3 linked regions of the Homo sapiens genome follow. The protein of the gene in region 3 interacts with the protein of the main gene of each other region in a pairwise test. Each region holds a gene or a part of one and is shown on either strand. Other genes may lie near its edges.

What was found.
Region 1: the proteins of RABGAP1L (region 3) and MECOM interact in binary tests that used the Homo sapiens proteins (3 or more experiments, as listed by UniProt).
Region 2: the proteins of RABGAP1L (region 3) and RAB36 interact in a two-hybrid assay, tested with the Homo sapiens proteins (one study listed by BioGRID).

The regions. Positions count from the first base shown.
Region 1 is NC_000003.12:169,652,360-169,662,435, forward strand, and holds part of MECOM (histone-lysine N-methyltransferase MECOM), read right to left. Parts: intron 8,804-10,076; exon of another isoform or gene 8,477-8,803; intron 7,698-8,476; exon of another isoform or gene 6,746-7,697; intron 1-6,745.
Region 2 is NC_000022.11:23,154,319-23,164,394, reverse strand, and holds part of RAB36 (ras-related protein Rab-36), read right to left. Parts: intron 9,307-10,076; exon of another isoform or gene 8,749-9,306; coding exon of another isoform or gene 8,737-8,748; intron 8,428-8,736; coding exon 8,363-8,427; intron 6,793-8,362; coding exon of another isoform or gene 6,752-6,792; intron 6,404-6,751; coding exon 6,352-6,403; intron 5,498-6,351; coding exon 5,416-5,497; intron 5,233-5,415; coding exon 5,142-5,232; intron 3,517-5,141; coding exon 3,397-3,516; intron 2,896-3,396; coding exon 2,831-2,895; coding exon of another isoform or gene 2,772-2,830; 3' UTR 1-2,771. UniProt on the Homo sapiens protein: The small GTPases Rab are key regulators of intracellular membrane trafficking, from the formation of transport vesicles to their fusion with membranes.
Region 3 is NC_000001.11:174,161,591-174,171,666, forward strand, and holds part of RABGAP1L (rab GTPase-activating protein 1-like), read left to right. Parts: intron 1-10,076. UniProt on the Homo sapiens protein: GTP-hydrolysis activating protein (GAP) for small GTPase RAB22A, converting active RAB22A-GTP to the inactive form RAB22A-GDP. Plays a role in endocytosis and intracellular protein transport.

The sequences.
Region 1 (10,076 bases), on a different chromosome or scaffold from region 3:
TAAAGTCTATGCTAAGCATAAAAGCTGTGGGTCTTAGTCTTACCCTCACTTAGAGGAGTTCCCATTGACTTAGGAGCAGTCCTAAGTGCACAAGAAACCATATATGGCTGTTCTCGGTAAAAGAAAACTCCTAACAGGCACTAAAAGCCTGTAATCATTCAGGACTTGAGGATAGTTGTCCAAGACACAGACAGTCCTATTTTCTCTATAGAGATGGTTGATTTGTGAAATGACAGATGGGGGTTAGAGGAGTGGGGAGGGGCAGAGAAGAAGAAGTCATGTTTGCACTTGAATTAAGGGAACAGAGTTGAGTGAGTTGGGTTAATTTAATCAGTAAAACAAGATTCAATACATTATCTATCAACCTTAAATTGTTTGAAAGAAATCTTTAATCATAAAAGTGCATTTAAATATACAGCAAAATGCTTGACACCATGCTCTATATTAATAGAGCATAAATATTAGGCAGCAAAACTGCCTACATTGGTGTTAGGATTTAGGTAAAAACTTGGCTTCTGATGACTTGTAAACTGAATATTCCCAAATCCCTAGGAATTACATGAGTCCACAGAATGTTTTACCATTTCTACCTTGACTCCTTTGACATTCTCCAGAATCAGGTCTAGTACAGAGTTTAAGATCAATAACAATTTGTGATTTAAGTGAGGGGTCATGGGCAATACCTGCACTGGCAAAATGAGGGACATTATTGGTGAAAATTAGGAATAATACTCCACTTTCCAGGTGGTTTATCACTGTCAAAATAGGTCAATTGTGGATTTAGTATGCACTTGAAATGTCAGATATCCCAGAATTCTGGTGCCGACATTACTTAACTGCACAGGTTTTACAGCCAAAGAAATTGAAGGGGTTCACATAATCCACCAAAGCCCATTGCTAACCACCATCACCTAATCATATTGATATCTGCCATATGCAAAGCATAGTATTAGGCCCTATACAAAACAGAAATGGGCTCTCCAGGAGTTTTACAGTTTACCTAGAAAAATAAGATATATACCATGAAGACAAGCAATTTATAATAAAATGCCAAAATGATGATAAAGACAATTCCATACTATTGGAATGAAATAACATAGAAGTCATATCTCCAGGAGAGATCATGAAGAAGCAGGAGTTCAAATGAAATCTTAGAGGAGTTAGATTTTGACAGTCAGTGTACAGTATGGGTAGATTTACAAACTATGGCAACATTATGGCCAAAATTTGGATGGTAGAAACACAAGAGTAGGCTGATAAGAGACTGAGAGGTACAGAATGAGTAAACAAGGTAGGCTGAATGGACCAGTCTTGAATAAGACAAGCCTGAAAAGTCAATAAAATAATGTATTGAACTCTTATTCTATTTAAGGCACTCTAAATGCATTAGTTTGATCAAATCCTCACATGAGGTAAGTACCTCTAGTCCACAAGTAAGGAAACTGAGGCACAAAAAGGTTACATGGCTTGCCTTCATTTCAACCAGCTAGTAAATGGTGGAGCCAGGATTCAAACCCAGGCAAATCTCACTCCCGACCTGTACTCAGGAGTCACCACATTCTTCTGGCACAAAAGTAGAGCCCCTCAACAGCCAAGCTAAGGAATTTGAGATTCAGCATCAGGTATAAAGATTGAGAATGAGGTGATAACTCATTGATAATGCTTATATGCATGGTTCATCACTACTCAGAATCTTCCTCTAAAAGAATTGCATTATCCGATGATATTCCCAACAATATTCACTGATAGTGATATGTATTCACTGACAAGTCCCATGACTACAGTATTGAGTTAGATATTATAAAGTGCTCAGTCAAATCTTTATCAGGAGAGTCCATTGTGTTGACATTCCATCACCACAATTTTTAATCCTAAAGACTTAATTTTACCTGTTATTCACCTAACACTTCTGCTAGAAATACAACTCATGATAATAAACAGAGCAAAGTATGTTTATTTTCACATGTTACCCGAACATATATGACCTTCCTACATGGAAAGCCACTCTGCTCAAATAAGACGTTCATCCCTTAAAAACTTATTTCTCCATCCTAGGTTCAGGTCTTAAAAATCAGTTGGGTTCCTCAGTTACAGATGTACAGGACATTACATCTGGACTCTCCTAGGAGGGCAGGGGTGAACTCTTCCTCTGAATATCCACAGTAGCCAAATGACTCCTTCTCCCACTGTGGAAAACCACAGATGACTGTCTCCTAATGATTTACTGCCCAACCCCCAGCCCACAAATCAAAGAATTGGGTTTAGTGAGAAATAAGAAAGAATGGTGGCCAGTGGATACAAGAAGGGGAGGGAATGCTTCAGTTTATTTTCTTAAGCCAATTAATGATGAAACGGCATGGAGGGAAAGAAAGACACAACATAGTTGTAAAAGACTATTTTTCCAGATAAATGGCCAGATATCAGATTCTGTAATAAGTACTTCCACCTATCAAAACACACACACACACACACACACACACACATATTAACTTGAGGTGGGGAAGAAGATATAGATCTTAAAAACACAAGGTAATATTCAAAAACCATTCTGGATATCACCATAAAATGAAACTTTGAAGCACCCTTGGAAATCAATGAATCTGGACATTGCAAACCCTACAAACTATATATTGCAGGCAGAGGTGTTTGGTTGGGCCTGCAGAATTTTTTAAAATTGAATCAACATTTCATAAAGTAGAGAAAACTTACATAAAAACCCAGATTTGTGGCTTCTCTTAAAAAGTGGAAGACCTGGCGGCCCTGAACCCCCTTGCCCAAATGGTAACAGTGAGCAGGAGCTGAGAAGAAGCTGCCACCTTTAGAGGAGTCTTGAACTGCCAGTTTCCCACCATCCCCGCCACTCCCTCTTGTTCTGAAATACAAAGGCTGGGTGTCAAAAAATTAAATAAAAATAGGAGAGAGCTTAAGGCTTATACCCACCTTGCTTCACTCATTTATGGTACCTGCAAATTTACAGGCTCTGCTCTAGTCTAATCCATTCATTTAAAGAGGAGCAACCCAGCTGCAGTAGTAAAGTGACTTACAAACTCAATCCACTAAAAGTCAAATTTTCATTCAGGAGGGATTATTGCCTAATGATAACTAGAGAGTATGCAAAACTAAATTAGGGCTGTGTGGCTATACAATGCCAAAATCTGTGGGGAAAAGTTGAAATCTCAATCATTTTATTTACACATCCCCCTCACCCCGACTCCAAATAAAGGGCAAAGGAAGATGCTCAAGTTTTCAGAACAAATTTACTGCCTAGTTTGGCTTGGTATGGACAGTTTTAATGTGCCCAAATTTTAGATATGACTTCCCTTCATTCTGAGGGCATAATTTATTGAGAAGACATACAAAATGCTTACCGTAGACATGTAAATACTTTTAAAAAGGAAACTGGATAAAAACATTAAACAGGAGGGGAAAAAAAAGGATGTTTCTTCTTCAGAAAATTTAACTGATAAATTATAAGGAAACTGAAACCCACTAAGATTTATTGAGCATGTGCCTTAGGTACTTTGCACACATTATACCAATTAACTCTCACAGCAGCCCAAGGAGGGTAGTATTATTACTCCCACTTCACAAGTAAAGATGCTAGGCCTCAGAGGCATTCAATAACTTGAAGAGGACCTGACTTTTCAATCAGGGATCATGCCCAGATTCAAACACTGATGTGCACGTTTGTAATGCTTGTGAGAGTAGGGAACATGGTTTGCCCGTGCACAGGGCCTAGCACATTGATATTTGTTGTGTAAGCCTGCCCATCGCCAAAGCACAAAAACTGCCATGTACAAGCACTTTCATTCATAAATGTCATCATTTGAACAACCTTGACATATACAACTAATTCATTTAGGCAGGTTCTTGAACAAGGTTTAGGAAATGTTGGTTCTTTATGTTGTGTAGTTAATGACCCCTACACACATGTTTACTAACATAATAAAATCTCTTTTCTAAATAAATTTCTCCTTTAGAATTGTTATAAAAGTCAGTAGTCAAGAATTTGGCTGAATATACAAGCCAAAAGCACGTTTGCTAATGAATAAGAATAATAACTAAAATCAAAATAAGAATTAATTCAAGAATGAGTGCTTTTGAAGAGTCAGGAATTTGATTAAAAATTCAGTTCCCTTTTTTTCCATAATGAAACAGTTCTTTAACCACAAAACAGCTTTTATAATAATGCCGAAGAGTATGGTTCCAAGCAAAACACTCCCCCATTTTAATCATGGCTATTATTTTTGAAAATGAAAATGACTGAGGTCATTGTAATCTATTTTAGGGTTTGCATGGGTTGATGGTATTTTTGTCTTGGCTTTGAGTTCTCCACATTACCCACTAAATGTTATGGGCTTTACCGTGTGCCCTTTCAAATCCCATTCTTTCTAATAACATTGTATTTTATACACATAAATTAGAGTAAATTCCACTTTCTTTCCTAACAACTCCAGATGTGGTCCACACTTTCAAAAGGACTAGAACTTGCCTTAAAAAAAATTCAGTATGTACTTCTTAGAACAACTATGTTTCTATATAGATAAAAATGCTGTATGGATGTTTAAATGCTGAATAATTAGTAAAACCATAGGACTTGTGGTTTTTTCACCAAAGTGAAATATGAAGATAATATCTATATATTTACTCCTTCCAACTTACAAGGACATACACAGATAAAAAATGCCTAGAAACAAAACCATCTGGGCAGAGTTCTAGACCTACTGATACCAATAGGGAAGGGGGATCTGTATTCAGACAACCATTTAGAACACATCAGTGAGGCTCTCTGTCCCCTGTAGACCCAGTAGACAAAATTAACAAATATCTAAATACACTAAAGTTACACAGTCAAGGCTCCCTTTAGACGCAGTTAATATTTCACTTACTTTCTGAACTTAGTTGGGGTTTTTATTAAAATTCGCTATCACGATCCCTCTAGGTAACCCCTACACAGCCACACGTGAGAGAATGGCTTCACAATACATACAAATTGTGGAGATCTGGCTATTAAAATGCCTTGAGATCTGTTTGTTTATTTTTTTAAAATCAACTTGCAAGGCCAATGTAATAAGATGCTGTAGCTTTTATGAAAGAGGTGAAATAATTTTAAACACAGACACACAATGAGTTTATTTATTTAGAAACTTGTTAAATAGAGTCTGGGAATTCAAATATTCAATGTTGACATTGTACAGAATTGGCAAGAAGCCAGAACCCAGTCTCCAGAGGGACCCATTGGACAAGGAATTCAGGACTTTCTCTCCTCCCACTTGAGCTAAATAGGTAGAAGCCATTAGTTATACCCACAGCAATATCTGAACCACACTCAAATAAGCTGCCCCAGCCAGGGCACTTCAAAGGAGGCTAAGTGTGTTTAGCTTTTTAGTGCTGAACTAGAGCAATATGTCACACTTTTGAAAGAGTCTTGTAAACAGTTTCTTCCCTATGTAGAGACATCTCTGAAGTTTCTTGTATGGCTTGTAGTAAGCAAAGGTAATTAACAAGGATTATACTTTTTTCATTTCCTGGAGGGGCTGGGGAGGATAATACCAATCTGTGTGCAAACTAAGGATCTGGAAGAACTACACTATTTCTCCCTTCCTGTCTCCCTCTCTGGTTTTCTGATCGATTTGTCTGTCTCCTCTTTATCCTCTTCCTTACACTTGTTCTCACTATACAGCCAATTTCCTTGAAAATTCCCTGGTAAACTCTGAAGGCCAGAAGAGTGGGAAGGGGGAAATCTAATTTTAGAAAGAAGACCGTGGCTAGTGGAGTGGGGAAGTCGGGAGGGAACTAATGATTTATCCTGCGCCGTCCAGGAGAAAAGAAAAGCAGACCCCACAGACCGTTTTAGAAAATGCCTAGACAGCGGCTTCCAGCGGAAGAAGGGTTAACCGTCACTCCAAAAAAATGTACCTGGCATCATCAGAGTGTAACTTTTCCCTCCCACCCCATCTCTTCCCCAAACTCACTCTCCCTTGCCCTATGAGGCTAGGAAGGAGCCTGTCCCAACAGGGAGAGTGAATGAGTGAGTGTGTGCCTGCCCTCCGCGCAAGAGTGCTCCTTGTCTTCCTGAAGCCAAGACGTGTGTGGGTGTGCACACGCATGTGTGGGTGTGAGTTTACACTGTCAATGTAAACCCAGCTCCGAGGGAAGCAGCGCGCCAGGCACGCAGCCCCTCTGAGACTAGAGAGGGAAAGAAGAGTTCTGGCCAAACCTTGGAGCCCTGAGCTGAGCAGCCTGAGGAGCGAGGTGTAGGGGGCCCCCTGAGTGAGAAACTGCCTCCCACCTCACTGGGGCTTCCCCAGTCCCACCCCCACGTCCATCTTGGGCCACTTCCTCAGCACCAGACGGTTTTGAGATGAAGCGTGGGAGGGCTCAGCTCTTGGGAACAGGGCTCTGGGTGCCTTGGGAACAGGGAAAAAGCCGGTGACCAGGAGATGACAAGTCAAGGTTCTCCATCTCACCGCCCGCTTCCAGCGGAGGCAACGCGCAGGGGGGTGCCGGGAGAGAGGGGGCCGAGCCGGGCGTGCCGGGGGCAACTCCGCTCTCTTGTCCTTCTAGCCCGGGGAGGAGGGCGTCCCCCCTTCCTGCCCCAGGTCACAACTGCAGCCTCGGATAACCTGGCCCCAACTTACAAAAATAAAATAAACTCCCAAACAGTAACATGCTTAAAGAGAAATTGCTTACGACTCCTCACCTTCAACTCCAAAAAAAAAAAAAAAAAAAGAAAGAGAAAGAAAGAAAGAAACCAAAATTCGTGGAATGACATGTTAATTTCTAGTCCTACATGTTGAATGTCTGTCCCTGCAGGAAGCCGGCCCCAGGGCCCAGGGGAGGCCTTGGCTCAGAAAGCCTGGGAGCTGGGCTAGCCGGCAAAAGTCACACTCACTCACATTCACACACACACTCACATGCACTCTATAGCCAAGACCTGCAACTCTGCAGTCCCTACAAATAAAAAAAGAAGCCTTGCTTTTTAGCCTTTCTGCCTCTACAGCTAATGAACCGTTCCCTTCCACAGTGCTGGAGATGAGGGAAGAATGAAAAGCGTAATTAACCTTCCCCTAAACACAGATTTTTTTTTTTTTTTTTTTTTTTTTTTTTTTTTGCAAAACACATCAAAATACTGCAAGAAGACTGTGCTCCAAGTGCCAAATGCAATAAAGAAGCCCTAAGCCCGGGTAATGGTCAAGTAATAGCAAATAAACCGCCTTCCTAGAAGGGGCCTCGGCCTCCGTTGGGAGAAGGATTTTCCTCCTCAGAAGCAATCTGAAATAAACAAATAAAAGTATTTTTTAAAACAAAGCTCTGTTTTCATCTGAGTTTCTTAAGGATGAAGGAAAACCCAAGTAGGTGGGCATACAGAGAGTAAATGCCTGAATCTGGGTGTTGTGTTTGTTGTTGTGGGGGGGTTGTTTTGTTGTGTTTATCTCAGTTACTGGGCTGACAAGGTGAGTAGTTTAAGGACGGGAGAAAGGGTCGGCATCTACCTTTCCTACTTCAGAGCCTTTTTTTAAACAGAGAGCAAGTGTAGGAGTAACAAGTGCCCCCCTTGCCGCGGTCTTGCTAATCGCATCGCCTTTTGAGACTTTACGAGACTTCTGGGGGGCCGGTAGCTAAGGGAGTTACTGGATGCAACTCGTTCTCTGCTGTGACTGAATTCCCGCGCGTTGTCACTTTGGGGAAGTAAGGTAAGGGTGGCTTCGGTATTTCAGGCTTTAGACATGCTGCGCAGACCCAACCTGCACTTCCTTTCCATCCATCAGGACCATAGCAACTGGCATTTCTGGCACGGCCCAGGTGCTGTCCTAGCTGCCCAAGAAAACGGCTGGGAAGTCTCCCCGCGCTGCCAGAGTCGGTTTGGCTTTTGGTTTTCTTTTCTTAAAGATGGAAATAAAATTCAGGGGCGTTAGGCACTACAAATGTCAATCTTCCTGCCTTTCATTTTATTTTTAATTAAATTTTTTAACCTTCCCAAATGATTTACAACGAATTTATCGGTTTCAACTACTGTATAAAATACAAGCCTTACAAGTTGCAAACTGTGTTGTGCATTCAATCTCGGTGTAGATTCAGTGGGTATTTTCAGGGTCCGTGGTCTCTGGTCTAGGTCCATGGGCTCCTGTACTGTAGTCAAGGCCAAATCAGGACTTAAGACCACCAAAGAAATTTACAAAAGACAAAAAGAACAACAAGCTACCGAGAAAACAACTATTTATATGTAATTTGTTTCCATTGTAATGTTTTCTCTTGCCACAATAAAGGTAGTTTTGTTTTTTAAAGTATTGTAGTCACAACTCCCCTTCTAAACCCAGAAAAAGAAAAACTGGTGCAGAGCAGTGAAGTTTTCGTTGGATGATTGCACCGCAGGGGTCACCAACCATCTCCGCCACGCGCTACTCGGGGGAAGGAAATCGCGCTTTAAAATACAAAAATCTGTAGTTTTAATATGATTTCCTTTATTACCCAGATTGTAACTGAAGAATTGCAACGCAGCGCTTCTGTCTGGGAAAGGCAGCTGCGGCAGCAACAGCTGGAGTAGTGCAAGCGGGAATCTGAGGCTCAGTAAAAGTTTGTAAGAGTTGAGATCTAGCTATCAGAAAGCGGCAGCGGCATCCTTAGAGACCCTGGGGACAAAATAAATGGGTCTCCCACCAGTTGAATGACAAGTATCATCAGATCGGAAACGAGGCTCAGTTTCTGGATGCTGAGTGGACTGTGCGTGCGGGAATATTTTAAGACGGCATCGTATGTCTTGCTTGGCAATTAAAATAGTTGAAAAAGTTGCTCAAGAAAATTCGAAGGGTTTTGTGTTCTGCTTTCACTTCAGAAGTTATCGGGCAGTGAGTTGCGGCGCGAAGCCTTAAGCTTTCACTTCACAACTTAGGCATGGTTGAAAAGGGCTACCCACCCCCACCCACCATCCCACTCCCGCCAACTCCCCCCCCCACACACACACTCTCTCTCTCTCCCAACCTTTAGTCCAAATCGAAGCCCGCAAACCTCAAGTATATGTACATTTATTTCCCTTCAGATGAAAATAAAGACATCGGCCTCATTTAAAAGCAAACAGGGAAAACAGTTCCACCGGCGCCCTTTGACACTGTAGCAGCGAGTGTAAAGAACAACACCCAAAAGAGAAACAGATGGACTGATGACCCAAAGAGCCCTATATTTAGGTTGATTTCTCAGACCCAGGGGAAAGGAAATGTATCGGGGAGTGTACGAGTGCTTGGGTGAGGACTGCACAAAGCACTGGAAAGGCGCCTGGGATGACAGCATCTCGCGGGGCTACACCGCCGACTCCAATGCCCGCGAAGCCGAGCCTGCTGAGGTGCCGCCGACTTCCCGGGCTGCTGCAGGGACGCAGTGAGCAAGGAGGCGTGGATACGATACCTACCGTATTTGGTTCTAATGTGCGAGGGTCGCGCGGGGGGAGACTGGGATTTCACTGGGGAGAAGCATCCCACCCATCTCCGATCTCTCATTTCTGCGTTCCGTAAACAACACAATTAGAGAGTTTTGTTTTCGGCGAGTGCGAGTGTGGGAGAGAGAACCGCGGCCTGTCCACTCCCGAGGCAGCTCCAGCCCCGCCTATTGACACCTCAAGGAAGAGCGCTCCCAGCCGCTCCGGGGCTCAGTGTCCCTGAGTCCCCTTCAACTCGAAGTAGAAGCATTTGGACAAACGCAGTCCTGTCGTCTACAGTCCTGGCGGAGCATCACACCGTGTGGGAAAGTGTGGGCCCCGCCGGCAAAGCCAGGCGAGTCATCCAACACTTTTGCTGTAAGAGTGGGGGATGGGACTCCCACCGCCCCCTCCCCAAACCCCTTAGCCCACATCCCGCCAGACCAAGGCCGCTCCGCGCCGGGCAGGCAGGGGGCGCCGGGGAGGGTTATTGACCCTGGACCCAGGCTGCACCCAGACGAAGCGCCGGAGGCTGCGCTGCGCCCTCTCCGCGGCCCAACGCTCTGGCAGCCCGCCCCCTGGGGTTTGCTCGGCGCCCAGCAAGCCCGAGGTGCGCGGGTCGCAGCGCGCCCTCTCTGCCTCCTGCTCCTAGGCTGCCGCCGCT
Region 2 (10,076 bases), on a different chromosome or scaffold from region 3:
AACTATGTCAGTCAGGGTGTGTGGGAATCAGCTGGCACATTGCAGGAGGTAATATGAGGACGATTTAATCAAGGACCATTTACAGAGGTGGGGGTGTACGTGAGGCAGTACAGCTCTAGCTCAGAAGCTGGTAACAGCTGGACACCACACCCACCCCCGCAAACATATCCTGGAGGCCCGAAGGGGCAAGGGAAGGGAGCTGTGGAGAACGACAGTCCACCATGGGCAGGTTCTCCCGTCCTGTGAAGCTTATGCCCAGCAAACCTGGTCTTCCTAATGGACCCCAATGCTGTCTGCCCGACCACAGGCTGCATTTAGTGGACCAGGCTGGGGGCCGCAGTCGGGAGAAGGGCCTTCCTGAGTACGCAAAGCTATAACTACAAGAATGGCCACTGCAGCACCATTGGCAAGAGCTAAAAGCTGGACACAAGCCGGATGGCCCGCGGATGGGGAGGGTCAAATGAACTACAATCCATCCACATGAAAACTGGGCGCTGCTACAGGAAGGAGGCTCCTTGTGTGCCATCAGGGAGAGGCCTTGGCGCCAGCTCCCTAGGAAGGCAGGCTGCCAGGCAGTATGTCCAGAAGGAGCTCACTCTGGTGAAAACAACAAACAAGCCATCAACACTAGCTGTGCAGGCAAAGGCACAGAGTCCAGAAGGAATAGTCCTGACTGTTAGCAGAGCTAACAGTCTTTCCTGCTCTCTGTCCATCTGTGTGTCCTTCCATTCATCCATCTCTTCTGCTGGAGACACTTCAGGGGCGCAGCTAATGTGGCGGGGGGGGGGCTTTCACCTTGTATTTTATATGCTTTGTACTGTCTTTGTTCACACTAAACATACAACCCCTTTAAAAGTCATTTATGGAGGCCGGACGCGGTGGCTCAGGCCTGTAATCCCAGCACTTTGGGAGGCCGAGGCGGGCAGATCACGAGGTCAGATCATCGAGACCATCCTGGCTAACACGGTGAAACCTCTCTCTACTAAAAATATAAAAAATTAGCCCGGCATGGTCACACGTGCCTGTAGTCCCAGCTACTCGGGAGGCTGAGGCAGGAGAATGGCATGAACCCGGAAGGGGAAGCTTGCAGTGAGCCAAGATCGTGCCATTGCACGCCAGCCTGGGTGACAGAGACTCCATCCCGCCGCCCAAAAGAAAACATAAAAATGAATAAAATCATTTATGGCCGGGCATGGTGGCTCACCCTTGTAATCCCAGCACTTCGGGAGGCCGAGGTGGGCAGGTCACCTGAGATCAGGAGTCCGAGAGCAGCCTGACCAACATGGAGAAACCCCATCTCTACTAAAAATACAAAATTAGCCAGGCATGGTGGTGCATGCCTGTAATCCCAGCTACTTGGGAGGCTGAGGCAGGAGAATCGCTTCAACCTGGGAGGCAGAGGTTGCACTGAGCCGAGATTACGCCATTGCACTCCAGCCTGGGCAACAAGGGTGAAACTCCATCTCAAAAAAAAAAAAAAGTCATTTATATAAAAAACTACAAAAAATATGTTGAAGGGGGAATGAATAGAAAAAGATGCCAGTGTTCTTCCCTAACTGGTATTTGGCAATCGCTGAGCTGAACATTTACAGGGCAGCTGCAGTGTGCCAGGCCCTAGGAGAGCAGTACTGATCAGAAGGCTGCCTGCAAGGTGCTCGCCATCTACGGGAAGCAACAGCACGAGACGGGTGGGATGAGTGGGCATAGCCAGGTGACAGGGGCCTGGGGCTGTGGGGCTGGTTCATAGCAGTGAGAAAACCCTGTGGATGAGCATACTGGGCAGAGAGGCTGGGGAATGTGTGGGGTATTTCTGTCTGCTCTGCATGTGCAGGAGGCGGTGTTGGAGACAGGAACATGCTAGACTTGGCAGGGCCTCTGAAGTCCTCTAAAGGTGCATGGACACCATTACAAAGGTCCTAAGAGATGTATAGGCCAATGAGAGAGGGATGGAGAGGCAGCAGTGGGCACAGGCCCAGCATGAGTGCCAGAGGAGGGCAGTGCCATGTTCAAGGGCTGCAGAGTGAGTTACCCTAGGACAGCTGTGCAGTCTGCCTCCCGCAGCACACAGGTAAATGCACTGTCCAGGTGGGCCAGAAAGGCCTGAGTGGTTGTTCTGCACATCCTGGCCCACGGACCAGGAGGGCAGGACCTAGGGATCTCAGAGGTGCCAGAGATAGCCCTTCAGCCAGAACAGGTCTAAGAGACATTTTGTCCATTGTCCTCCAGAGGTGCTGGTCTGCCCAGGAACCTTGAGCATCCGTGGCAGAAGGACAGTGAGGCCTGAAGCTCTGAGACCCAGAACCATAAGTCCTGCTGACAACAGAAAACTCCCAGGGGGAATGGCAGGTGGCCTCTCCTTCAGGTGCTGACTTTGACAAGTCCAGGTTGCCTGGAACACTGTGACGGATCCTGGGGACACATCCAAGATCGCTGGGAAAGAGTGCAGGGTTGACTGCTGATGTGGGCCATGGCCGAGTAGTATAGACCGACGCAGGAGTTTGCAGTTCTGAGGCCTCTTGAGGCCAAAGGTGACTGTCTGATGACCCTGCAAATGGACTGGCCTTTTATGGGATCACCACAGTGCCTGCACTGGCCCGGTGGTGTGGGGCTCCCAGGCAGCCAGTGGGGGCCTTTTCTAGTGCCCAACCTGCAACGGACAAGTGACTGTGCCCTGGAGCTGAGCCCGGTGGGTGGGTGGAGGGACTGGAACATGGGCCTACAGCTTGAGGGCGACACGCTGCAGAGCTTGGGCTCCAGTCTCCACACCACAGTCACGGAAATTCCTGTCCGTGTGTGTGCAGGGAGCGGAGGCCTTCCACGCAGGCCCCAGTTAGCAGCAGCCCAGGCTGGAGGGCCTCTTGCTCTCCTGGGTCTCGGGCGGACTCCCTTCCATTTCTGTAAGGAGGGGAGAAGTAATTTAGCATCAACCAGGAATCCTGTAGCTGACACTGGGCAGGGGATGCCGGCCCTGACAGTCAGAGCTGTGAGCTGAAGCTTCTGGGCCTGCTGTTCAAGGCCTGAATGGCCTGACACAAGCCAAGAGAGGGCCTTCCAGGCACTGGAACAGAGAGGGCAAAGGTGCAGACTGGGAGAGCCGGGGCCAGGACACATCTGCAGAGCCTGGGACGCCCAGCCTGGGCTATGAGGACCTCATGGATGCCCATGAGGTCCATGTGTCAGGAGAACAGGGAGGGCTAGGGAGGGTGTCTGACCTGGCAGGTGGAATCAGAGGGGCTACAGGCCTGAGGCTGCAGTGACACCCTGAGAGGAGGGTCAAAGGACAGGAGAGGGCCACAAGTTCAGGAAATGGCAAGGCCTCAGGTGACGAGGATGGCGCATGTGGATTTTAGGCCTCCAGCCTACTCCCCAGCCCAACCCAGTCACACCTATACTCACGGATTAGGTCTCCATTGCCGACCTGGAGCCGGGCACTGCTCTGCCTCTCCAGGTCCTGCAGCACCGACTGCTCGAATGCCAGGGCGGCTACGCGGCTGAAGAATGCCTTCACGTTCTCGCCTGTGGGCCCACAAGACAGCCGGGACCTCATCAGTGTTTCTCCTTGCCCCTTAATGCATCTGGGTGTGAAAGCCAGGCTAGCCTACCCTCAGGTTGGCACGTAGCCCTTTCTAGAGCACCCTGACAGTAACAATGACCCCAGGAGGGCACAGCCCCACCCACTCACACAGGCAGCACAGTGCCAGGGGCAGGGTCCACTGGCCTGGCCTCCCACCTGGCTCCAGCCTCCCAACTCCCACCCCACTGCCTGCTTGGGCCACTCCCTCAAACTTCTGAGCCTTTGCTTCCCAGCATCTACTCTTCCAATCAGATGCTACTATGGCCCAAGTGTTGGAAGATGTGGAACTCAGGACAGATATGTGCCTGCCCTCCTGTCACTTTCCATACCTGTCCGGTGGGGCTGTGAGGATTGATTTGCTGTCAGCCCCCACATGGAGCCTTTATGCATCCTCCTCCAGGTAGAGGTGGCTGCCCATCAGAGAGCGGGCTGGTTTCCAGCCCTTAACACGCACACTGCCCTTGTGCAGCCAGCAACCTGCACAACCGCATAGGGCAGTCCTGCTTGGTCCATAGTGAGCTGTCGGTGAACTCACTGTTACTCTGATAAGGGAGGAAGGGTTCTCACAGAGCAGTTCTCACTGTTGGAAAGGAGCAGTGGAAGGCACTGCCAGTTGTTTGCGCTGGGCTGAAAGTGGTGCTTCTACTTGTGACGCCAACCCTCAGTGCTCACCCAGTCTCCGACTAGATATCTGCTGTCCCCTCTTACACAGGGTAAAGACTACTGGGCCCAATTCCTGAGTCCCCAGAGCCTTGGGGGCCTATTATGTGCCAGGCCCTGCGTATGACTTCATTTCATCCCCCAACAACCTGTGTTTGCCATCTGCTCTTTGTGTCTTTGGATTTTCTGTTTTCCTCAGTAAATACACCTGGCTTTTGTAATTTAAAACGTTTTTTCACAAAAAAGGGAGATGGATGGCATCACCTGCTTCCCAGATGAGATGGAGGCTCAAAGATGCTGGGCATCTTGCCTTGGGCTGGGGACCCAGTATGGCCAGGGGTAGACCCGGTGGGGAGTGAGTTCAGTGAGAGCTGGGGTCTTTGAGCCACAGTGATACTGGGAAGGGATGGGAGCCCCTGTCACTGGGCCCTTCTCTATGCCAGGTGATGTCACATGCCTGGCATTTCAGGGCCAGAGGCAGGATAGTGCAGTGGTTACAGGTGAGGGTGTGTTTGGATCCTGGCCCTGCCACCCTGTGGCCCTGGAAGTTACTTCACAGGACTAAAATGGAACGTGCCTCATGAGTAGTTATGGGGTAGTTATGAGTAGTTATGGGGTTCTCCGGTTATGGAGAACAGGCCAGCACGGCATGACACAGGGTTGGGGTCACTATTCCCCCATCCGTGAGGCAGGCCTCCCAGCTTCCTTCTAGAGATGACGCAGCTCCTCTTAGGCAATGAAAGTGCTGCCAGGCACCAGCACAGCAGGGCTGTGATGCCAGTGTGCACCAGGGCCACAGAGGGAACAGACGACTGGCTACAGAGGGAAACACTGCATGGCAGGCCCCACAGGACTGGCCCAAGAGCAGGGCTCTGCCCCACCATGGTGACAGCCCTGGCCCACTCACCAGTCTTGGCCGACACTGACCAGTACTCGGCCTGCATCTCCCTGGCCAGGTGCACAGCGTCTGCTTCGGCCTGCTCACATGCGGCCCCTGACTGGGAGAAATGGCCCTTGTTGACCCAGCGTCCCGGCTCTCCTGCAGGGAGGCCCAGGGGGATAGGCAGCTGCCTGCTTCCCACTGTGCTGCCTCCCTCCCTCCCCATGGCTCCTCCAATGAGGGCTGTAAGGGGAGGCATTTTCCCAAGGGCCACCCAGACCACCAGTGCCACTCTGCTCACCAGAAGGTCCTTCTTGGTTCCCACGAGGAAGATGAAGCAGGAGCCTGCCTCGTTCTCCCTCAGAGCATCCTCCAACCACTGCCTGGAGTGTAAGGAGAGAGGCTGAGAGATTCACCCATCCTCCCACCCCAAACAGGGGGCAGAGGGCACACTTGGGACCTCCCCAGGGCTGAAGTGCTGGGCTGGGAGGGACAAGGAGGGCTTCCTGGCCCACACTGGCTGAGCAGGATGCTGCACCTCCAGCCGGAAGGGCGTTGGCTGGACCCAAAGGGGTGGGAATACCAGAGCACTGGCTGGAGGTGGTGAAGACCCCTCCTGGCCCCACCTCTGGCCTCTCCCGGTGAGACCTTGCATGAGCCCTGCATGTTTATCAACTAGAACCATCACCCCCGCCTCCCTCACGGGGTTTGGAAGTTGCTGGGTGTGAATGCCCCAGACCAAGGTAAGGTGAGAGGGCTTTGCTCTAGTAGCTGGCCGATTCCCAGCAGAAGTAGGATAGCCTCTTGAATGGGTCACATTGCCAATTCTCTCTTCTCAAGACTGCAAGTGCCAAATTCATGTCACTTCAAAGACTGGCTATACAGTTTTCAGGGCCCACAGTGAACTGAACACGTGGGGCACCTCATTCAAAAAGTATCCGGACTTGCAACATGGCAAAGGCAGTGTATTAAAGCAGGTTGGGGCCCCTCTGAGCACGTGCCTGGGGGTGGCTGTGCTGGGCTCACACTCATGTGCTGGCTCCTCCAGAATAGGGACAAATCTCAAGCGATAAAGGCAGTTGGACAGTAAGTAGTCCGTGGGCAGCTGGTTCTGACAAGGGGCCCTGGTCACTCACACCCACCACGGGGTCAGGGTCCACTGGCCAGGGTCTGGGAGCCCTTCCAGGCAGCTTCCTGAGCCCAGGGAGACTGCAGGGGCCAGAGAGCCCAGACTTACCTGGTATGCTCCAGGGTCTGCACGTCAGTGAGGTCAAAGGCCGTGATGATCACTAGACACCCGGAAAAAGCCAACAGCCAATCAGTGCCAGGCGAGGCGAGCAAGGGGGCTCCCCAGGAGGTGCCCAGCTCCCAAGGAACTGCCAGGGCAGCCCCCCAACCAGGCACTCAGCACCGGAACCTCCTACAATGAAGGCTGAGGAGGAAACACCCCATGGCTGTCCCCCACCGGGACCCTCCAGCCTGCACCCGGCAGCCCAGCCTCAGTGTGGGATCCAGGGAGGCAGGACAAGGTAGGCGTGGAGCGAGCGCATGGGCTTTAGCGTCAGACACCCTCTGCCACTTACGGCTAAGGGAGCTCAGGTGAGGGCCTTAACTGCTGAGAGCCTCAGTTTTCCCACCTGTAAAATGGCGAGGACGAGACCTGTAGCTCTCAGGGTTGCTGTGAGGATTAAACAAGAGCAGCTGTTTTAAAAAGCTGTTAGTCGCCAGGCGCTGTGGCTCATGCCTGTAATTCCAGCACTTTGGGAGGCTGAGGCGGGTGGATCACTAAGTCAGGAGATCAAGACCATCCTGGCTAACACAGTGAAACCCCGTCTCTACTAAAAATACACACACACAAAAAAATTAGCTGGGTGTGGTAGCCGGCACCTGCAGTCCCAGCTACTCGGGAGGCTGAGGGAGGAGAATGTTGTGAATGCGGGAGGCGGAGCTTGCAGTGAGCCGAGATTGCGCCACTGCACTCCAGTTTGGGCTACAAAGCGAGACTCAGGCTCAAAAAAAAAAAAAACCTGTTAGTCCAGGGCCAACTTTCATTTCAACCAACAGCAGCTACAGCAGTGATGGTTAGCAACAACCTGCTTTAGCGAAACAACTTCCGGGGAGCCAGGTGGGCAGAAAACCGGGAGATGCAGCCTGGGCCCTCAGCTCCTCTCATCACTGGCCGCACCCCGGTCCTGTTGGGGTCCTGAGGGGAGCCCTATGTGGAGAACATTCCAGGCAAATGCTCTCTACTGCCCCCAGGGGTGTGACCAGGGCCGGACAGGGGCTTCCTCTGCACCTTGGCTGAAGGCTACAGGGAGACCCACGCCCCTCCCAAGGCAGATGGGAAGAGAAAGGAAGGGGGAAACTGAGGAAAGGGATGACGGCAGCCAGGCTGCCATGTGGAGAGGTGGGCCAGGCGCCTCGCACCTCTTATTCCCAGGGGAGAAGCATCCTTTCAAGGAGAGGCCCGAAGAGGCGAAGGGTGCAGGAGGCCATGCGACCAGGGCAGAGCTGGAGCTCCAACCCACGGCTGAGGGCTGCCTGGTTTGTTTCCTATTTTTGCTTCTTTTAAGTCTAAAAGAAAATGTTGTAACTTTTTCACCACTACCGAGTAGACATATCGGTGCCTTATAATTTGAGTCTGGTTTTGGATACTTTTGAGGTTCTCTCACATCTCCCACTGAAATCCATTTCTGTCTTCTTCCTGGGAAGGTGGGGTAGGCATCCGGAGCTTATGCTGCCGCCCCCTGCTGACGGTGAGCCCTGCCCAGCACCACCTGGCTGCCCTTGGCCATGGAAGTGGTGAGCATCCGGCCCTGCTGGCCCCCACCTGGGGCCTCCCAGTCCTCCCGTGGTCCCCCTTTCACTCCTACTCCCTGGCCCAGCCCCCTCTGCTAAGACAGGACAAGCCTCCTCCGACCTCCCCCTGGAGTCCAGTGCTGCCCTTCTCTGAGCCTCTGGAAAAGCACTTTCATCTCTGAGCATCTTTATGAGCTGAAACTGGGGCTGAGACTTAAAGCCAGCACCCACTACCACAGGGTCCTTAAAGGGTGTGATCGCCAAAGTCAGCCAGTGCCTGGGGATGAAGGCAGCTTCCCTGTTCCCAAGCAGTGGCCTGGTGTTTTCTCAGTGGGTCTTGGAGGACAAAAAACTGGTGCCTGTGCAGAGAACTCGGGATTCCCACTGTGGAGCCCGGCAGGGACCCCGCTGCTGCATGCAGTTGAGCCCCGACGTGGCATGTTGCTCACCCTGGGCACCCCGGTAGTAGGCAGATGCGATGCACTTGAACTTCTCCTGCCCAGCTGTGTCCCAGCTGTGAGGTGGGTGAGAAAGAAAGGGAAATGGTGTCAGGCTACACAATCACAGTGTCTTGAGCCAACAGGCTACGGGACCATGGGTGGGAGACCCTAAGGGCCTGTGCCAGCTGCATGGGCTTCAGGAAGTGCCTGTTGTGAGCCAGATGTCCCTACCCCCAGCTCCTTATGATCTCTTCCTAGGGTGCCCCCAGTGGACTTCTCTCATTCCTAGTGGATGGGGGTGTGTGGCATTAGTTGTTCTGCTGCCTGGATGGATGGAGTTGCAGCTCACTCCCTTCTGACTGAGACATTAAAATGGAACATACGGCCCAAGACATGACTCGCTCTGAAGATGTAGCAGTCCACTTGTAGAGAAGGCTCTGTGAATGGCACTGGGGCTCCAGGCGGGGCCTCCAGCAGTGGCTCTGCCACTTGGTTGGGTGATGGGTGTGACTGGGTCATTGCTTCACCTTCCACACTGCAGGTCCCAAAGTAGGAGTTGGAGATACCTAACACTGGAGCAATAGGTGGGTCTCAGCAGTTAGCTCCAGCTCTCTGGAGCACAGTAGTGAGAAGAAATTAGAAGCAAAGCCCTGGCTCCATGGAAAAGAGTACAACAATCGATTAATGATGTCTGCCATGGGCACAGTCTAGAAGAGGGGAAAGAGCACCTACTGAGATCTACCTGCCCTGGCTTAGAACAAGGCAGGTAGTCACTATGCAGGGCTGAGTCGGAAAATTGTTCCCCAATCCATCGCTTTTTGAGGTCAACTGATCAAAATTGAACTTTTCTCAGTAAACTGCAAAGTAGACAAGTCACAAACAAGACATCTATGGTCTGATTTTTTTCTTTTTTTTTGAGGTGGAGTTTCGCTCTTATTGCCCAGGCTAGAGTGTAATGGCATGATCTTGGCTCACTGTAACCTCTGCCTCCCAGGTTCAAGCAATTCTCCTGCCTCAGCCTCCCAAGTAGCTTGGATTACAGGCATGCACCACTGTGCCTGGCTAATTTTGTATTTTTAGTAGAGATGGGGTTTCTCCATGTTGGTCAGGCTGGTCTCGAACTCCTGACCTCAGGTGATCCACCCGCCCTGGCCTCCCAAAGTGCTGGGATTACAGGTGTGAGCCACCATGCCCGGTCATGGTCTGAATTTTTTTCAAGTGATCCAGTATGACACAGAAGTTTGGGCTTCATTCTTTCATTAATTCATTCATATTTTCTTTCATTTCTGAAGACTCTGGGGGAGGAGCTGGTGGTGGTGGCCTAGAGATGAGCCCGTAGGGAGGCTGGCAAAGGCCTCAATGTAAGACAATGAGAGGCTGAGCCAGGACAGTGTCCCTGTTTTGTCCAGGGCCCTCTAATGAGATATGGCCTGTGGTCACACGGGTGAGCCCAGCCCCCAGCCAGTCTTTCCCGGCTCCACCTCAGCTACCCCCACTGGCCCTTTGCTCTTCTCAGCTCTCTGGATCCCTCAGTCCTGCAGCCCTGCGTTCTCTCCCAGCCTCCTTTGCTCTTGACTGGCCTGTACTCTCCCTTGGGCAAGATTTGTTATCCTCCATCTCCAGGGCTTTGCTGGGGCTGTGGAAGTCCTGAGAGAAGGGGGCACTATCTCGACAGAGTTAGGAACTGACATCCACAGGATCTGAAGGCTCAGTCCAGGCAGGG
Region 3 (10,076 bases):
AGCTTATATGTGAACATATTATATAACCTACATTGTCCTCTAGAAAGCTGGAAACAAGTTAGTAAGTCTCAGTACTATTGGGGCATATGGTGAATATACAAACCAACCTAAAAAAGTGTGACTGTAAATAGATGAAGTTTGTTTGTTTCTTTTAAAGAGACAAGGTCTCGCTCTGGCGCCCAGGCTGGAGTGCAGTGGCTCAGTCCTAGCTCACTGCAGCCACGAAGTTCTGGTCTCAAGAGATCCTCCCACCTCAGCCTCCTGAGTAGCTGGGACCACAGGCACATGCCACCAAACCTGGCTAATTTTTTGTTTTATTTTTGTAGAGTCAAGGGTCTCACCATGTTGCTCAGGCTAGTCTCCAACTCCTGGCCTCAGGCAGTCCTTGCGCCTCAGCCTCTCGAAGTGCTGGGATTACAGGCCTGAGCCAACGGTGCTTGTCCCATTTTTTTTTTTTTTCACCTGAGTTATTTGATGGGAATTTCTATATATTACAGTTGCGATGTTCTGAGAATTTTTGTTTCTTTGATAATTGTTTCATGATTTAGATGTTTTCTTTTTACGCTGGTAGTTATGATTTTTTTTTCCTTTGAATGAAAGAATTTTATTAGGCATGTGAAACAGGAGTTTTCATGTGATCAGCTCTCCAGTTCTAAATTTGTGACTTTTAAAAAACTTGAATTTTTTTCTTTGCCTTAACCCAAACTTGAATTTGCTCAGCCATTGTATATTTATTTGAACTCTCAGATGATACAGCATTGAAGCAGAAAGTCCTTTTATCCATGCTTTTGGAGTAATCAAAAGAAGGAATTCTGTTGTGCCAAGTAAAAATATGTGTGGGAGATAGCTAGGCTTCAAGAGATTGACTTTGAAGAGAGTAGTGGCTAAGTAGCAAAAATTTCCTATATTGAAGGTGTAGAAGTGGGCCTGCATTCCAACCTACCATTGTCTTCAAGTGGGGTATGGATCATTATGACTGGTTAGAGGGGGTTTGGAGAATGAAGTTGTTGCTGTAAGCCTATGGGATTCCCAGGCACAGAGCTTGCTTATGTCTTAATTTTAATGAGTTCTATATTTTTATAACTCTTGACTTATATAAATGGGTCAGCCGTTGAGTCTGAGGATGACCAGCAGCCCAAGGCTATTCCAGGTGCTGGTATTTCTTTTTTTTTTTTTTTCTCTTTCTGTTTTTTTTTTTTTTTTTTTTTTTTTTAATTATACTTTAAGTTTTAGGGTACATGTGCACATTGTGCAGGTTAGTTACATATGTATACATGTGCCATGCTGGGAATTGAACAATGAGATCACATGGACACAGGAAGGGGAATATCACACTCTGGGGACTGTGGTGGGGAGGGGGGAGGGGGGAGGGATAGCATTGGGAGATATACCTAATGCTAGATGATGAGTTAGTGGGTGCAGCGCACCAGGTGCTGGTATTTCAAAGATGGCTCAGGGGTTTCTTGTGGAGATGATCTGATGAGCATTTTGCCATTACAAACAGTGGAGGCGGAGAAAGTACGGACTTGAGCCTGAGTTATGGTAAAACATACTCATTTTTAAAGGAGAGTTTTAATGCTGATATTATAGAGAAAGACATTGTTTGACTCCTAGACTTTCAGAACGGGAAATAATTTTGACTTTATAGTCAGTATTTGAATTGGGTATAAGTATGTGAACATCAGTGGACCCTAATAAGGAAGAGTTAATGAATTAAGAAGAGCTTGCATCTCTGAACATCTTCTTTTTATACTTCGTTTACTTCCCATATTGCTCTTATTCAACAGATGGGATGGCATAATTGGGTATACGAAGTTTATGCGCATGCTAACTCTTTTTTGTTATCTTTTGGTGTTTTTTGGTGTACTTTTTGGGGATTTTCCTGGGAAAGTTCTAGGCATATATTCAGTTGATTTAGAGTTAGATTTGGGCTAAGATTATTAGTATACTTGAAATTCTGAGCCTTCTTATTTTCTAAATAGCTTTTAAAGTAGAAAACATTTGCCAGTGCTGTTGGGCTTAAAAAAAAAAAAAACCCAACAACAACACAATTCTTTATAAATACTCATGAAAAATCTGGTTACAGGCTGTGTTGTGATAGACATAGTACAGCCAAAAATATATTTAAGAAAATTCTCACCCAGTTTAGTAAGCTTAAATAAGAGGAAAATAAGACAGTTTTTTTTTTTAATAAAAGGCTGATTTTCCCAGAATATGAAGCCTAACAACTGTTTGCTGTGTTATTTTCCCTGTTGCCTGTTCTAAATTCAGCAAGAACTATGCATCCCTAGTCCATGGTAAAAGCTTAGTTCCAGTAGGTGATTCTTAGTAATGGAAGTCTCATTGAGGGATGCAAGGGAATTTGATTGGGAAACATCAGGCATGGAACATTTACTTTTTACTGCTCTAATTTTCTGTGTATCTGGGTATTCAGTGGGGTGGGAACATGAGCACAAATACTAGAATTATCTGGATTTTTTTTTTATACTATGGATTTCCTCCTCTTACCCCCTACCTGCCCCCCAACCCATTGCTAAGTGAGCCATTGATAGTAGGAGTGTGTTATATCCTTCAGGTATGTAGGGCTGAACAAATGCTAAAAACCTTGGCACTTGGCTGATATTCCATAAACCAAATTCCTGCTCTGTGTAATTTGCCTTCTGGTGATATCAGTTTGTTACTCCCATTTTTGAAGAAAAATATGAATTGTGGTGAAGAGACATCTGTAACCAAGAGTAAGATTTATCAAATTATGTAGTATACATGAAGGACACCAGGAGATTGTTTACCTGAACATTTATTAAACTCATTTGACTGTGACCCACAATAAAAAATACATTTTACTACTTGATTCCGCAAGCGCACACACACACAAAGTTGAAAGTTTGGTGAAATAATATTTATCTTTTCAGGGCCCTACTGAGTTAGCTATAATGGCTTGCAAGACCAGTTGTGCATATTTCTTCCTATCTAGCTCTTTGTCCAGTGACATCATGTTGGTAGCTCAAAATTGGTCATGGTGGGAATATTTACACCAGGAAATTCAGCAAATGGTATTCTTAGGGCTTCCCTCCTCATAGGTAGTTGTTAAACATTTATAGCACCCCACTGCTTATAACACACATTGATATATTCTGTTATTTCATTTCATTTTAAAAATGCTGGGTTTTGACTTCCAAATTAATTTTACACCCAGCTAATGGATTATAGCCTACATTTAACAACAAATACAACTAGTTTAGCCTACCCTCTTAACTTTGTAAGTGAAGGAACATACTAAGAGCCTCAAGGCCAAGGTCAGATAGTGAGTTATTAGCAAAGCCAGGGCTCTGGACTCAATCTGGAGTTGTTTCTGGTGGGCTTCTTTCCTAACCTCACTTAGTGTGTATAAGGGATTGTGTTAATCAGTTTGAATAAAGATGGACCTTGACCCTGAGGACTTTATGCTTAGGTGGGGGATTAAATATGGAAACAACAGTGATAATGAAAGGCAGAAAGTAATGGGTGGTAAAAAGATAAAGATAAGGAACTATAAGAGTTTAGAGAGGAGGGAGAGATTACTTTTATTTTTGTTTGTTTGTTTGTTTTTCGTTTTTGACCCAGGCTGGAGTACAGTGGTACAATCTCGGCTCACTGCAACCTCTGCCTCCCAGGTTCAAGTGATTCTCCTGCGTCAGCCTCCCTGAGTAGCTGGGATTACAGGCGCCAACTGCCACACCAGGCTAATTTTTGTATTTTTAGTACAGACGGGGTTTCGCCATGTTGGCCCGGCTGGTTTTGAACTTCTGACCTCAGGTGATCCATCCGCCTCAGCCTCCCAAAGTGCTGGGATTACAGGCGTGAGCCACCGTGCCCGGTCTACTTTTAGTTTTAAGGATAAAAGAAGAGGTGACATTTGAACTACTTTTTTTTTTTTTTTTAATTTGGAGACAGCATCTCACTCCCGTTACTCAAACTGAGTGCTGTGGTGCCATCACAGCTCACTGCATCCTTGATTTCCTGGCCTCTAACAGTTCTTCTGCCTCAGCCCCCAAGTGGCTGGGACTATATAGGCACACACCAACATGCTTGGCTAATTTTTCATTACTTGTAGAGACGGGGTCTCATTATGTTGCCCAGGCTGTTCTTGAACTTCTGGACTGAAACTGTCCTCCTGCCTCGGCCTCCCAAAGTGCTGGGATTACAGTTGTGAGCCACCACGCCCGGCCCCTGAACTATGCTTTGAAGAATGGGTAGGATTTGGACATGTGGAAATAGGACAACTAGTATGAGAGAAAGGCCTTTCTGGGCCAGGGGCCAGGGTGATCAAAGGCATACAAGCATAGACAGGGAAAAATGAGTAGTGAAAGAGCTAGGCAAGAAAGAGTCCGTTAGCACCAGATGGTTAAGAGCCTAGAATGCCAGTTTTCCTTTCTGCTTTTCAGTTTATCTTTCATTTTTGACTCTGGAGTAATCTAGTACTTCTTAACATTGAACAGGATTTATATGTTATGATTAAAATATGATCCAGAGAGCACATAAGTATCCTTAGAGTAGAAGCTGAAGGGAAAAATTATTAGTGTTAGAGAAGCAACCTTGAGTTTACCAATCCTAAAAGTGTTGGAAAGTGAAAAATATTTTATTTGTAAGGAGAGACAGTGTTTTTTTTTTGTTTGTTTTTTGTTTTTCTTCATTAGCGTCAAATTGGCTGTAGTAGAACAGGAAGCAGTTTTGAAAGTCTTTACAAGGGCCTTCTAAAATGTGATTTCTAAATGACTGGATCTTAATTTTTGGAGGCAGGTTTAGTTCAGGCAGAAGGGTAGTTTATACAGATCTGCAGCTAAGCTGAGTAGCTTTTAGAATTTAGGGCAGCAAAGCAGGGTATTTTATACAAAATCCACTTGTAAGGAATTGATGGCTTCTTTATTCCAAGAATTTTCTTAGATTTCAGCATTTATGTCTTTGACAGCCTGTATGACTGAAGATGTTTTGAAGTCTTGGATGGAACTTGCCTTGTTTCACAGGGGAATTGGGTAGCTAGAAATGAAGGTATAAATGCCAGTAAGTTGTGTCTGTTAATCAAGTTGAAGTACTGGTGGCAGTTCTCAAGCTTTTCTGTCTGCTGATGATTTCACACTTACTGCTTCTAATTAAATAGTGTGTAGTCGATTTGAAGAAGCCTTGCTTCTCTTTGACCCACCAGTTCTGTAAAGGTAAAAGCCTTCTTAGAGTGTTGCCCAGGTAACAACACATACAGAGACTGCTTAATAGCTCATCATGGAAGTGTGTGGAAAATTTTGGAAATGTTGGTAAAGAAGTTGCTATAGTAAATAACTACTTGGTTGGTAAAAAGCTGGGCTACTTCTGGATAGTTGATAAAGAGTTTTTGAGATGAGCCGTGGTTCTAAAATAAATATGAATTGTGTCATTGCCACACGATTTTCTTCAGTTATGTAAGCTCCTAATATGTAAATGTTGTCCTACCATTTTAGAAGGTGTCAGCAGTTTCATGTGACCTGTTCCACAATATAGCACACCCCAAACACCACGATAAGAGTTCAAATATGGCATGGCCCAGATGCCTCACACCAGTTAAATGATAAAGCTAATCATGTCAGCACAGTGTTTCTGTTAAAGTTTTTTCCCCCTCTTTTTTGAGGCATGTTAGTTTTCACGAATTGAGGTTATTAGAATCTTTCCAGATTTTCTGCCACCATTTTTTTTGTGTGTGTGGTAAAAAGTATAATGATGGTGCCCTTAATTAAATTATGTAAACATTTGTAAAGATATACACGCATACACATAGTGTGCATATATGTATGTGTAGACATACATACATATATATTTACATATCATTAGTTCTTGGAATTTGTGGTGAAAATACACCCACCTGGCAAATGGTTGAAAACAAGTGTTCTAGCTCTTTGAAGACTACCATGTGAGTATTCACAAATATGAAAGTAATGCAAACCCAAAGGGAGTTTTTGTATGCCCAATTTCAAGAAAGGAGCACATTTTAAAAGGCAAGTATGGAATTCATTCATATACCAGTGAGGAATTTCTCAACTTCTCCTTTACCCCACACATACACCCGTTTACCATTCTCATTATTAGCAGTAAGCAAAATTAGAAGACTTTAAGAATCAGACTTCTACTACAAGTGATGCAAATAAATATTATTTTTAGAAAAAATACAAACCTGTGGTTTTGAGTTATGAAGGTTTAAGAGACACATATCACTAGTTTTTTTTATAAACTACATGGAGTGTTTTCTGTGCTTCAAGATGTCGTAATTGTCATTGTGAGGCCTTTTGCTGAGAGCATTGTATAAAGGAATAGTTGTTAGAATGGTTATTAGGTGTTTCTTTGAATAGTTTATTTTTCTGTAGTCAATTTATCTTGCATACATTGATGGCCGGGGGTGGTGGCCCACACCTGTAATCCCAGCACTTTAGGAGGCCAAGGCAGGCAGATCACTTGAGGCTAGGAGTTTGAGCCTAGCCTGGCCAAGATGGTGAAACCCCACCTCTGCTAAAAATACAAAAATTAGCCGAATGTGGTGGTGTGTGCCTGTAGTCCCAGCTACTTGGGAGGCTGAGGCACAAGAATCCCTTGAACCTGGGAGATGGAGGTTGCAGTGAGCCAAGATCGTGCCACTGCACTCCAGCCTGAGCTACAGAGTGAGACTCGGTCTCAAAAAAAAAAAAAAAAAAAAAAAAAATTGAATAGAGTATACTACTTTAGTGAAAAATTGACCATTGAAAAATCAACCATTGAAGGGAGGTTATATATATATTGGCAGACAGTAGGGTTTCTGAAGTTGTTTTAGAATAATTTTGTTATTGAGCAGCTGTTTTATCACCAGACCTCATTCATTTATTATTGCTTTTTTCCATTTTTTTTTAAATCTCATGAACTGTATTCTTTCATTTTAAATCTCTCATATTTGCCCTGAAGTCAGTGGTCATATTTGGACTAATGTTTTGATTTGCTGTTGTCTGCGCAAAGATCTATTACCAAGTTGCATGATCAAGTTGGTATTGAATGGTAATTCAGTTAATGTCTTCTTCTCTCCATTCCTTTTTTCCTTCTGTATTCTAGAAGTTACCTTAACACTAGTGTGAGATTCCTGGCAAAGTTAATGGGGAAATGAAATTAAATATTACTGTTATTCAAATCCTAGGGTGACCTTTTTGCCAACACTAATGAACATAGAAAATTTTTCAGCATGAATTATGCAGCTTAAATTTTCACTGAGGCTAGGCCTCTTAAGTTTAAAAAATTAAAAGTTAAAAAAATATTTATGGGGTACAAGTGCAGATTTCTTACATGTATAGATTCTTACATGTATAGATGTGGTGAAGTCTGGGCTTTTAGTATACCCATCACCTGAATATCCACCATTCTGTATGTCCATGTGTACCCATTGTTTAGCTGTCACATATAAGTGAGAACATGCGGCATTTGACTTTCTGTTTCTGAGTTATTTTACATATGATAATGTAGGCCTCTTAAGTTAAAAAACATTCTGACATGCATTTTATAGTTCTTGTCAACATTATCAATAGCTTTGATAGATGAAACAGGTTTCTCCTGTTGCAGTTGGTATCACACACAATAAATTAGCCATCCCTACCATTTGAAAATATAAAGGTGTTTTTTTTTTTTGACACGGAGTCTTGCTCTGTCGCCCAGGCTGGAGTGCAGTGGCATGATCTTGGCTCACTGCAGCCTCTGACCTCTGCCTCCCAGGTTCAAGCAATTCTCCTGCCTCAGCCTCCTGAGTAGCTGGGACCACAGGCACGTGCCATCATGTCTGGTTAATTGTTGTATTTTTAGTAGTATTTTCACTATGTTGGCCAGGCTGGTCTCAAACTCCTGAACTCGTGATCTGCCAGCCTTGGCCTCCCAAAGTGCTGGGATTACAGGCGTGAGTGACTGTGCCTGGCCCAGATAAAGTTTTTTTAAAAGATAATCTAGTAATAGTAGGAAAGAGAAACCAGTTTATCAGTTAATCTAATACTTCCTATTTTGAATATAAATTTCATTGTGTTGCATGGTAACTTCATTATGTTCCACTGAGTATTTACTTTTCTAAAGACAGACCTTTAACAATTTTTCCTTTTTTTCATGTTTTGGAGACAGGGTATCTCTCTGTTGCCCAGGCTGGAGTGCAGTGGCACGGTCATAGCTCATTGCAGCCTCAAACTTCTGGTCTCAAAGCGATTCTCCAACCTTCGTCTCAGGAGTAGCTGGTGGGACTATAGGACTGTACCCACCACACTCTGCTAATTTTTTAAATGGGAGTCTCCCTATGTTGCCCAGGCAGGTCTCAGACTCCTGGGTTTAAGCAATCCTCCTGCCTCAGCCCTTCCAAGCATTGGAATTACAGATGTGAGCCACTAAACCCTGCACAATTTTTCAACTTTTGGGAATTTCACTTAGAGGAGGATAATAGTAGCTTTTAGACATTTTTATCAGTTATCCAAGGGTGGAAAAAAATACTTAAAATGCAAGTAACTACAAACATTTTTGGTTTTGTGGGAGACAGTGTAGATAGAACATAGAACCTTAATTCTTGATCTAGTGCTGCTGTGAAATTCAGAGAGAATAAGTAATTTAGACACAACTTCTTTCTCCTCTTTGCACATTAACCATGAGCTAATATTGAGTGTTTACATGGGGTAGTTATTACATAAGAAAATGTACATTATCTCGCTAATCTTCACAGTAACCATATGAGGTAGGAACGATTATAATATCATCTCCAGTTTGCAGGTGAGGAAGCAGGATTAGAGAACTTCAGTAACTTACCTAAGATCACATAGCCAGGCGCCGTGGCTCATGCCTGTAATCCCAGCACTTTGGAAGTCCGAGGCGGGCAGATCACGAGGTCAGGAGATTGAGACCATCCTGGCCACATGGTGAAACCCCATCTCTACTAAAAATACAAAAATTAACCAGGCGTGGTGGCATGTGCCTGTAATCCCAGCTGCTCGGGAGGCTGAGGTAGGAGAATCGCTTGAACCAGGGAGGCTGAGGTTGCAGTGAGCCGAGATTGCGCCACTGCACTCCAGCCTGGACAGAGTGAGACGCTGTTTCAAAAAAAAAAAAAAAAAAAAAAATCACGTAGCTTGTGAGAGGCAGTTATCTCTTGCTTCTAAATCTGTCTCACAGTGACTCTCTACTACTACTCTGTATTGACAATCTTTAAATGGGATGGTACTTGTTTTGCACATTTCATAGGATAGTTATGAGAATCAAAAAAGATAAGATGTACAAAAGAACACACAGATGTCTCTGGTGTATTCATTTTATTGGATAATATTTGAGACACCAAAGAAATCTTTGAAATCTTGTACACATATTTGTTTGTAATCAGTAATGCTATAAAATAAGTTGAACAGATGAATATTTGAAAAGTTATCTATAAAGACATATTTTGTGTGGGTTCAAGGGATCTGTGAGTGAAAGGTAGAGGAATGCAGAAATGTAGGGATGTATTATAAAAAGTGGATCAGATGATCTCTAGCAGCCTGAATTCTTTCTGCAATGAGGAGTATATGTAAATAACAGGTGACCTATAAGATCCTTCCAACATCAATAATCTATGAGTCTTTGTTATGGGTTACTTATTTTCTGTTAGAATATCCTCAAATTAGCGAGATATGCCCAAAAGAGCTTTTTAATTTTATTTTAGCTTAGATCATCAATAATCACCATTCTTTCTTTGTCCATTTCTAAAATTGTTTATATTTAAGGTATACAGCATGTTTTGCTATACATATACAAAACATATACAGATACAAAATCATGAAATGATTTTTATGTTTTGATACACAGATACAAAATCATGAAATGATTACTACAGTTAAGCAAATTAACCTATCCATCTCCTTCTATAATTTTTAAAATTGTGGTATAAGCATCTAAAATCTGTCTTAGCAAATTTTATATATACTATACAATATGAATAATTATAGACTTCGCGCTATACATTAGCTCTCTAGACTTATTCATCCTACATAACTGCGAGTTTGTACCCTTTGACCTACTTATTCCCATTTCGTCCCCCTCCTTTCCCCTGGTAACTGTGG